Regions from separate parts of the Homo sapiens genome. Here region 2 is linked to region 1. Evidence: fine-mapped expression QTL. A gene starts in region 1. The other region holds a variant in brackets. All regions are shown on one strand. Distances are between the middles of the regions.

The links. PIP is the estimated chance that this variant, and not a neighbour inherited with it, causes the effect.
Region 2: its variant is the best candidate, but not a certain one, in a credible set for the expression of DACT2 in hippocampus (GTEx, PIP 0.66).

What each region holds. Positions count from the first base shown.
Region 1 is chr6:168,317,563-168,321,952 of GRCh38, forward strand. It overlaps DACT2 (dishevelled binding antagonist of beta catenin 2), which reads right to left and starts at 2,215. Exons shown (of 4, transcript NM_214462.5): 1 at 1,826-2,215. The coding sequence starts at 2,071.
Region 2 is chr6:168,284,989-168,289,378 of GRCh38, forward strand. It overlaps the pseudogene CTAGE13P. Among named protein-coding and RNA genes, the nearest start is that of DACT2, 33 kb to the right of the region's middle. The variant A/C (reference allele first, on the strand shown) is at 2,147.

The DNA.
Region 1 (4,390 bases):
TGGCTGTCGTGTGCTGAGCTGAGGTCACGCAGAAGCTGCGATTGTGTGTGGTGCAAACACACAACAGCATCTCGGCAGCACCTCCCTTCCCATGTGTGTAACACGTCTGTGGCTGTCGTGTGCTGAGCTGAGGTCACGCAGAAGCTGCGATTGTGTCTGGTGCAAACACACAACAGCATCTCGGCAGCACCTCCCTTCCCATGTGTGTAACACGTCTGTGGCTGTCGTGTGCTGAGCTGAGGTCACGCAGAAGCTGCGATTGTGTCTGGTGCAAACACACAACAGCATCTCGGCAGCACCTCCCTTCCCATGTGTGTAACACGTCTGTGGCTGTCGTGTGCTGAGCTGAGGTCACGCAGAAGCTGCGATTGTGTCTGGTGCAAACACACAACAGCATCTCGGCAGCACCTCCCTTCCCATCACATGTGTGTAACACGTCTGTGGCTGTCGTGTGCTGAGCTGAGGTCACGCAGAAGCTGCGATTGTGTCTGGTGCAAACACACAACATCTCAGCAGCACCTCCCTTCCCATCACATATGTGTAACACGTCTGTGGCTGTCGTGTGCTGAGCTGAGGTCACACAGAGGCTGCGATTGTGTCTGGTGCAAACACACAAACGACCTAAACAGACGGCCAGGATTTGGTCACTGGGTGAGTAAACAAAGTCTGTACACCAGCTACTTTCCTCTCAGGAGGCATCAGGGGCAGAGTTGGGGGCCCAGGTTAATCCCACACAGTCTACCACCTCCGTCTTCCACAAGGTCAGGAGATAACGGGGAACCTGGGAGGCGTCCCAGACACTGGACTTCCTGATTCTTTAATCCAGAAGGGTTTGCTATGTTAACAACCTGGCTGAGCGAGCGAGGCAGACGGTCATGCCGCAGCTTCACCTGGGCAACATTTAAAGGCAGTAACTTTTAACAGGACAGACTTAAATTTCTAATGTAAAAGAAATTTCACTTAGTGTAACAGAGGTAACACAAGTAAACATATCTTTCTCCAGCCTTTTTAGTTTGTCTTTAAGAAAATACAGCAACTACGAAAACGCTTGTGAGTTGTTTCCAGTAAGTTTAACAAAATCATACAATAACATAATAAGCAGAGGGGTAATGAGTGGAGTTCCTTTCATTGTGTGAAAGGAGGGGTTCAGAGCGCCCAGGGAGTGCTGAAGAGGGCCCGTGGCAGGGAAATCAGAGTCTCTCTCCTCTGGATCAGAGGACACGCCTCTCCTTACAGGTCAGGTCACATTTTAAAGTTGAAGAGGCCTTTGTCAGTTACATGCTTTCCCCCAATACTTTATTACAGTGACGCGACCTTAAGAAAAGTCAGCACATTCCTGAGGACAAGTCGGGGTGCGCTTTACCACGCGGACACTGTTGCCCCTAACCCAAGACAGCAGGGGGGACCTGGTCCCCGGGGGGGGAGTGATGCCAGGATCCCGAGCCGACCTCCGCCAGGGGAACGCCGGTCAGTGCCTGCAGGTCAGATCAGTGCTGTAACCCTGTAACGAACAGGGTGTCTCTCCCAAATCTGCCAGCTTCGGGATGCTGGCGTGGGTAGGCGCACATCCACGCACGGCGGAGCGCGGGCTGCAGCCCCGGGCAGTTTTCAGGGTCCTCACCTGTGCGCTTCACCTCTAGGCACCTGCGCGCGGGGCCTCCATGTCCCCCTCCTTGGAGACCGAACTGCATTCCATTCAAATCCCAAAGGACGTCCCCTCCATCCATCAGACACCCCCGTCCCACTAACACACAGTCGCTGCCGAAGGAGCAGCGCCTGTGGCCCGCACACCTCGCAGCCCCGAGTCCCGGCGCCCGGTCCTTACCAGCTGCTCCTGCAGCGCGGCCAGCGCCGCCTCCAGCTGCTGCTCGGGGCCGTGGAGGCCGTGGGGGCCGCAGGGCGCGGCGGGCGCGGGCGGGGGCTGCAGGGCCAGGGCGCCCCGTACCCGCTCCTGCTGCGTGGCTCGCAGCCCCTGCAGCTCCTGCAGCCCCGCGAACGCCGCGCGCAACCTCGCGCCCAACCTACGGCGGTCCCAGCCCGCGGACCCCGGGGGTCCGCCCGGCGTCCACATCTCCCGGGCAGGGTCCCGGCCTCCCGAACCCCACGAGCGGCGCCGGAGGCCCAGCGCGCGCGGATCCCGAGCTGTGTCGCGGGTCCTCCTGCGCCTCCTCTCTCCGCCCCCGGCTCCGCAGGTCGCCAAGGTGGGCTGGAATCTGTGGCCAGGCGCGGAGGGCGGGGTCTGCACGCGCCCCGAGGTCACCGCGGCCTCCCCCGGACCCGCCCCGCCGACCCCCCAGGGCCCCTCGCCGGCTGCGGGCAGGGCGGGCGCACCCAGACCCCGGGGCCAGCTGAGCGCCTCCGTGACTTCAGCGGGGAGGGCCAGCCGGGAGGAGGAGCCCGGGGGAGAGGGGCAAAGAGGCGCAAGTGGAACAAAGGCGGAGAAAGGCTTGTTAATGTTTTAAAATGTTTATAAAGATAAACTATTGGGACATTATCACATTGCAAGGACCGTGTTACCATTACAGACGCAGTAGAGATTTCAAAACCGTGTTACCCACGTTTCCCAATGGGTATCTGCAGTTTGGAAACCGCACCTCGCTTTTTTTTTTTTTTTTTTTTTTTTTTTTTTTTTTTTGAGACAGTGTCTCGCTCTGTCGCCCAGGCTGGAGTGCAGTGGCGCGATCTCCTCTCACTGCAACCTCTGCCTCCCGGGTTCAAGCGATTCTCCTGCCTCAGCCTCCCGAGTAGCTGGGACTACAGGCGCCTACCACCATACCTGGCTAATTTTTGTATTTTTAGTACAGATGGGGTTTCACCATGTTGGCCAGGCTGCTCAGCTTGCTTTTTAAATTTTTAAAATAATTGCTTAAGATGCAGTTCACATACCATAAAACTCACCTAATTTAAGGTGTACAGTTCGTTTTTAGTATATTAACGAAGTTGTGTTCACCACCCCCAAAAGAAACCCTGTTCTCATCGGTAGCTACCCCCATTCCCTCTCCTGCACCCCCACACATAGAACCACCACCCCGCAGGTTCTGGAAGTTCATGGAAATGGGGTCACACGCCAGGAGGTCTCTGTGGGGGCTCCTTTTGGTGAGCGTTTTCAAGGTGCGTCTGTGCTGCAGATTGCGTCAGAACTGTATTCCTTTGTGTGGCTGAATAATACTCCACTGCATGGCTGTGCCAAGTTTTGTTTATCCATTCATCTGCTGATGACATGTGAGTTGTTCCATTTTTTAGCTATTACGAATAACGCTGCAAGGACATTCCTGTATGAGTTTTTGTGTGGCAATATGTTTTCATTATACCTAAGAGAGGAATGGCTGGATCGTAGGTGACTACCGTGCTTAATCTTGTGAGGAGCTGCCAGGCTGCTTTCCAAGTGGAATCACAGCAGCCAGCGGGGTATGAGGGTTCCATTTCCTCAGTGTGCACACCAACCGCTGTCTTTAGTCCAGCAGATGTGAAGTGGTATCTCCCTGTGGTTTTGATTTGTGTTTCCCCGATGGCTAAGGACGTTGAGCATCTTTCCATGTGCTTGTTGTATACTTCCTTTGGAGAACTGTCTATTCAGATCCTTGGCCCATTTTAAAATTTAGGTTGTCTTTTCGTTATTGAGATGTGAGTATTCATTATACAATTCCCTTATCAGACATGATTTGCACTTCCCTTATGAAATACATGATTGACAAATAATTTTTCCATGTTGTGAGTTTTTTTCATGTTCTTGATAGTGTCCTTTGCAGCAAAAAATGTTTGTAATTTTGGTGAATTCCAGTGTATCTACTTTGTTGTTGTTCCTTATGCTTTGGGTGATCTAACAGAGCATTGTCTAATCCAAAGACAAAGTTTACAGCTATGATTTCTAAGATTTTGCTGTAGACTTAGCACTTACATTTAAGCCTTTGTTCTATTTTGCATTAATTTCTGTATATGGTGTGAGGTAGGGGCCCCTTCTTTTACATACCCAGTTGTCCTAGTACCATTTGTTGAAAAAACAATTCTTTCCCTGTTGAATTGTCTTGGGACCCTTGTTGAAAATCAGTTGATCCAGAAATCAGTTTCTGGTTTCTCAGTTCTGTTGCGTTGCAATATATGTCTATTCTTATGCCAGTACCACACTGTTTCAATCATTGTAGCCTTGTAATAAGTTTTGAAGTCAGGAAATGTGAGTCCTCCAATTTTTTCTTTTCCAAGATTGTTTTGGCTGATCTGTGTCTTTTGATTCTTTTTTCTTCTTCTTCTTCTTCTTCTTCTTCTTCTTCTTCTTCCTCTTCCTCTTCCTCTTCCTCTTCCTCTCCTTCTCCTTCTCCTTCTCCTTCTCCTTCTCCTTCTCCTTCTCCTTCTCCTTCTCCTTCTCCTTCTTCTTCTTCTTCTTCTTCTTCTT
Region 2 (4,390 bases), 33 kb before region 1:
ACTCATTACAACGGGGAACTCGATGTACCTTTTCCTAATTTGCAAGAATTTTCAAAGTCTTTAGATAAATGACTGTTATGGGTTGAACTGTGTCTGCCCCCAAAAAGCATATGTTGGCATCCTAACCCCCAGTATCTCGGAATGTGACTCTATTTGAAAATAGGGCTGCTACAGTGGTGATTATGTTAGAGAGTGATTATTAGGGTGGCCCTAAACCAATATGACTGGTGTTCTCATAAGAAGGAGCAATCTGGACATAGAGACAGACAGACACAGAGGGGAAGACGGCTGTCTGCAGGCTACGGAGAGAGGCCTGGAGCACACCCTTCCCCTGCTCCTTCAGAGAACCCACAGCCCTGCGGCATCTTGATCTCGGACGTTGGACCTCCAGGCCTGGGAGACGACAAATTCCTGCTGTTTAGGTCACCCAGGCTGTGGTTCTTAATTATGGCAGCCCTCGAAAACTTATACAAAGATAGTACATTTTAACTTAACAAAAAAATGATGCACCTCAAATAAGGAGTATGCCCACGGAACTAACGCTGCCGGCAACCCCAGCACCTGATCGTGTTCATAACGACAGTGACCATTTATGGAGCACGTCCTCTAACTCTGCTAGTGCAGACACCTCGGCATTATCGCATCCCTCCGCGGGCCAGGTAATGACACCCCCAATCCACACCGAGCAGGCCAGACCGCCAGGAGCCAGGAGGTCGTCTGGATTCATGCAGCGCGTCAGCCTAAAACCGGGATCCACCCAAGCTGCCCCGCTCAGGATTAACCACGCAAGACGCCGCTGCCTGGGACTGGCATGGGAAATGTTTCCTTCCGTGACTGGAAAACTCTGTTCCTTTATAAAAATGGTATGAAAACTTGATAGGAAAATTGGGCAAAAAGCACTTCCCCTCAGTGATTAAAAGAATAAAGTTCTGACGGCCTCTTGTGCTCGCATTTTTATATGGCTGGAGCCTCCTATAACCGCTATTCCCCAATCTTCTCTAATCTCGATCTCCTATTCTCTATTCAGCCTTTGTACTCTGCTATGTTACACATTTTTATAGTATTTGCCATCTTACAAAATCCCTTTCTTGTTGAGATATCCAAAACGATTATCCTAATGTCTGCACTATATTCCAAGCTACAACAACCCAGAATTTGGTGAGTCTTCTTCTACTGATCCGCAAGCTGGGCCCATTTTCCGGGATCCCACACAACGCTGCTGTCAGCGTCTTTGCTTGTGTGGGAACTGAAGCCAAGAGCTCACACTGATGAGGCAGAGGACAAAAGTGCCCGACTCTGGGGACCTTCAGCACAGCCTGAGCTCGGAACGGTCAGCTCCTCCCTTGAACTGACTCATTGCCTGGTGTCTGGGTCTGTCCTTGCTGTGTGCTTCAACCCGGGGCACAAGAATGAGAGGGTGACCCCAGACCTGAGCACGAGCACGCTGTGCGTCGAGCACCTAAGTCCACACAGTGCTTGGCCTCTGTCTTCTCACCTCCCTTTTCTTTCTTTTTTTATTTCTTAAATCAACTAAAATTTATTTAATTAAGCATAAAGTTACTTACACATTTGCCTACAGCCACAGTAAATACAGTTCTTGGCATAAAGACAAGGCCTTTAGAATTTAAAGCCTCCCCACCTGCAAGATTACATATATAAAACTCCTACTATTTTTATATAATAGTGGACTAGTTAATCAAATTAAAATAGTTATACTATCTAGAATAAAATAAAATGGAAACAATTTATTCATAAGATTCATATTTAAATCATCCTTATTTACAAAATACTATCCTAAGAATTATAATTCCATTAAGTTTCAATATGAGCAAAAGTGTAATCACTTGAGTAACAGCAGTTACTTAAACTGAAAATGAGATCAGTGAAAATGACTTTTGAAGAGAGCAAAAATATTGTCAGGTTTCTTGCTGTGGTTCTGATGTTCCGTAGCAGGCTCATCTGAAGGCGGACTCAGCCCTGAAGGGAACTCACTTCAACCCTCAGAATGTGGGGGCGGGGGGAAAAATCCAGGTCTTGGGGGAGGGTAAGGAGGAAAACCCCTCGGTGGATAGACGTTTCTCATTGCAAACGGAGCATGTGGTGGACCTGGGAAATCCCCTGGTGGAAAATAATCTCGAGAAGCTCC[A/C]AACCTGGTTCCTGGAGGAGGTGGGGGGAAAGGAGGTGCTCTTCTCATGAACGGGCCCCTTGTATCCACTGGAAACAGTGGACCTCTGATTGGAGCAAGAGGTGGAGGAACAAAGCCAGGGCCAGCTGCTTCATTTTCAGCGGGGAGAGATGAATCAGGCACATTTAAATTACCAAGATCATCTTTGGTGTCATTTCTACTGGATTCCATTTCTGAAGGCATTGACCCATCCATTTTATCCAAAGAAGGCATATTAAAACTTCTGAGTTCTGCTGGTCCAGACAGTCTACCAGAGTTAGAGTAAAATCTGTCTTGCCTTTGTGGAGGAAGAGCTGAATCAGGATATGATGGTCCTGGTGGAGGAAACATCATCCTATGGTCCTGTTCCCATGGAGGTGACAGGGACCCAGTGTCAGAAGGAGCCCTGTGAGGATCGGTTAACCTATCACAGCTTGATTCTCCTCTTTCCTTGGTAATCTGATGGTCCGGAGGATTCCCTGGGCCTCTTGAGCCTCTTCCTTCTCCCCCTGGAGGCGAAGGTGAGAGTCTGAGTGGACCCTTCCACAGAGTTGGAGGATAGAGAAAAGCTCTCGTTTCAGATGAAGGCCGACCCAGTGGTGAGGGACCATATGGGGAATGCTCTCTGCCAAATGCAGTATTTGGAACATCAAGTGCATACGGATCTTTTTTTAGAAGTTTTATTTTATACTCTGTTTCAGCTAATTTTTGTCTGTTGTGAGCATTTTCTTTCCTTAAATCGTCGAGGTTTCTTTCAGCAGCCCAAGCTGCCAACCAGTTATGATGTGCCTTTTTCTCATGGGAAATAATCTTCCTTTGATAAAAATGAATATTTCTGTCAAATTTGTCAAGATCTTTGGCTCGCTGTCTGTAGGTCTCCAGCTCTTTAGTGGCATGGCTGCTCATTTAGTCTACTTTAGAAAGTTTCTCTTCTTTCTCTAACCGGCTATTTTCCTCTACTATTAATTTCCTGTAGAGTTTCATTTCATTTTCTTTATATAATTCAGTCATTACTTTAAGTTTCTGTTGAAGCTTCTGATTCTCACTTTCAAAATGTGTGTTTTCTAACTGCAAAGATGCTTGTTCAGTCTGAAGATTTTTAATATGCTCTGTAAGCTCTTCCTTTGTTTTATCAACTTCAGATAACTGAATATAAATTTGGTTTCTTTCTCCTTCTAAGGTTTCAAAGAAGCATTTAACTTAGCGGCAGGAATCAGCTTCTTCAAAGCTCCTTTGGAGGGATCATCTGAGTGAGCACCATCTTCCGATTCACTGTTCACTTCTAAGTTACCATCATCCGTTGTGTCTTCTCCAAGCCTCGCAGCCCAATCTTTCATCTTTAGCAAACGTTCGGTCAGAGTCTCGATGCGATTTTCTTTATCACTTAGAACTTGTTCTGTGTGTACTTTGGAGTCTTCAAATGTTCTTTTCTGTTTATTAAGTTCACTCACTTCTTCTTTCCATACTTCAGCTTCTTGCAAAAGCTGTTTCTGGTTTTCCTGAAGTTGAGAATTTTCATTCAAAGCATCTTCTATTGTTATCTTCAGTTGTTCTCCGTTCATGTGAAATGTCTTGAAAGTCATTTTGCCTTTAGCTATTTGTGATTTGAGGGATTTTGACGCATCTTCCAGCAACTGTATCCTTTTGGAAATATCTGCTATCAGTTCATCTCTTTCAGAATGTTTAGATTTCTCTTCTTTTAACTCTTTTTCTAGACAGAGTATTTCATGCTCAAGCTCAGAATTTGACCTGTTCAGCTTTTCACAGGTTGCCTGCAAACTTTGTGCTTCTGCTGCCGCCTTCTCAAAGCTGGCATCCTCTAACGATGACGCTACTTCATAGCCTTCATACGCTTTTTGAACGAGGCTAAATTTTTCAAGTAGTTTACATTTTTCTTCAATTAGTCCAGAAAGCGCTACAGCAAGTTTTTTCTCTCTTCCCACATAAAGCCGACTCCTAACAGATCTAAAACTTCTCCACAAAAAAAAGGGAACAGCAAAAAATCCAACAGCAGCTGCATGTATCACCAATTCCCATGGAAAACCGTAAGGATGAGAATCCGGTCTCATACCGTCAGGCAGTGCTGCCACAACCCTGCGTCGCAACTCCAGGATCAGCCCCAAGCACGGCTGAGGGGTAGCCCTAGGGTCCTCCGTAGCGCCAAGGCTGCTCTGGCGGTTGCTGCAGTAACCCCAGCCACAACAAGTCGTGGACAACACGCAGCAT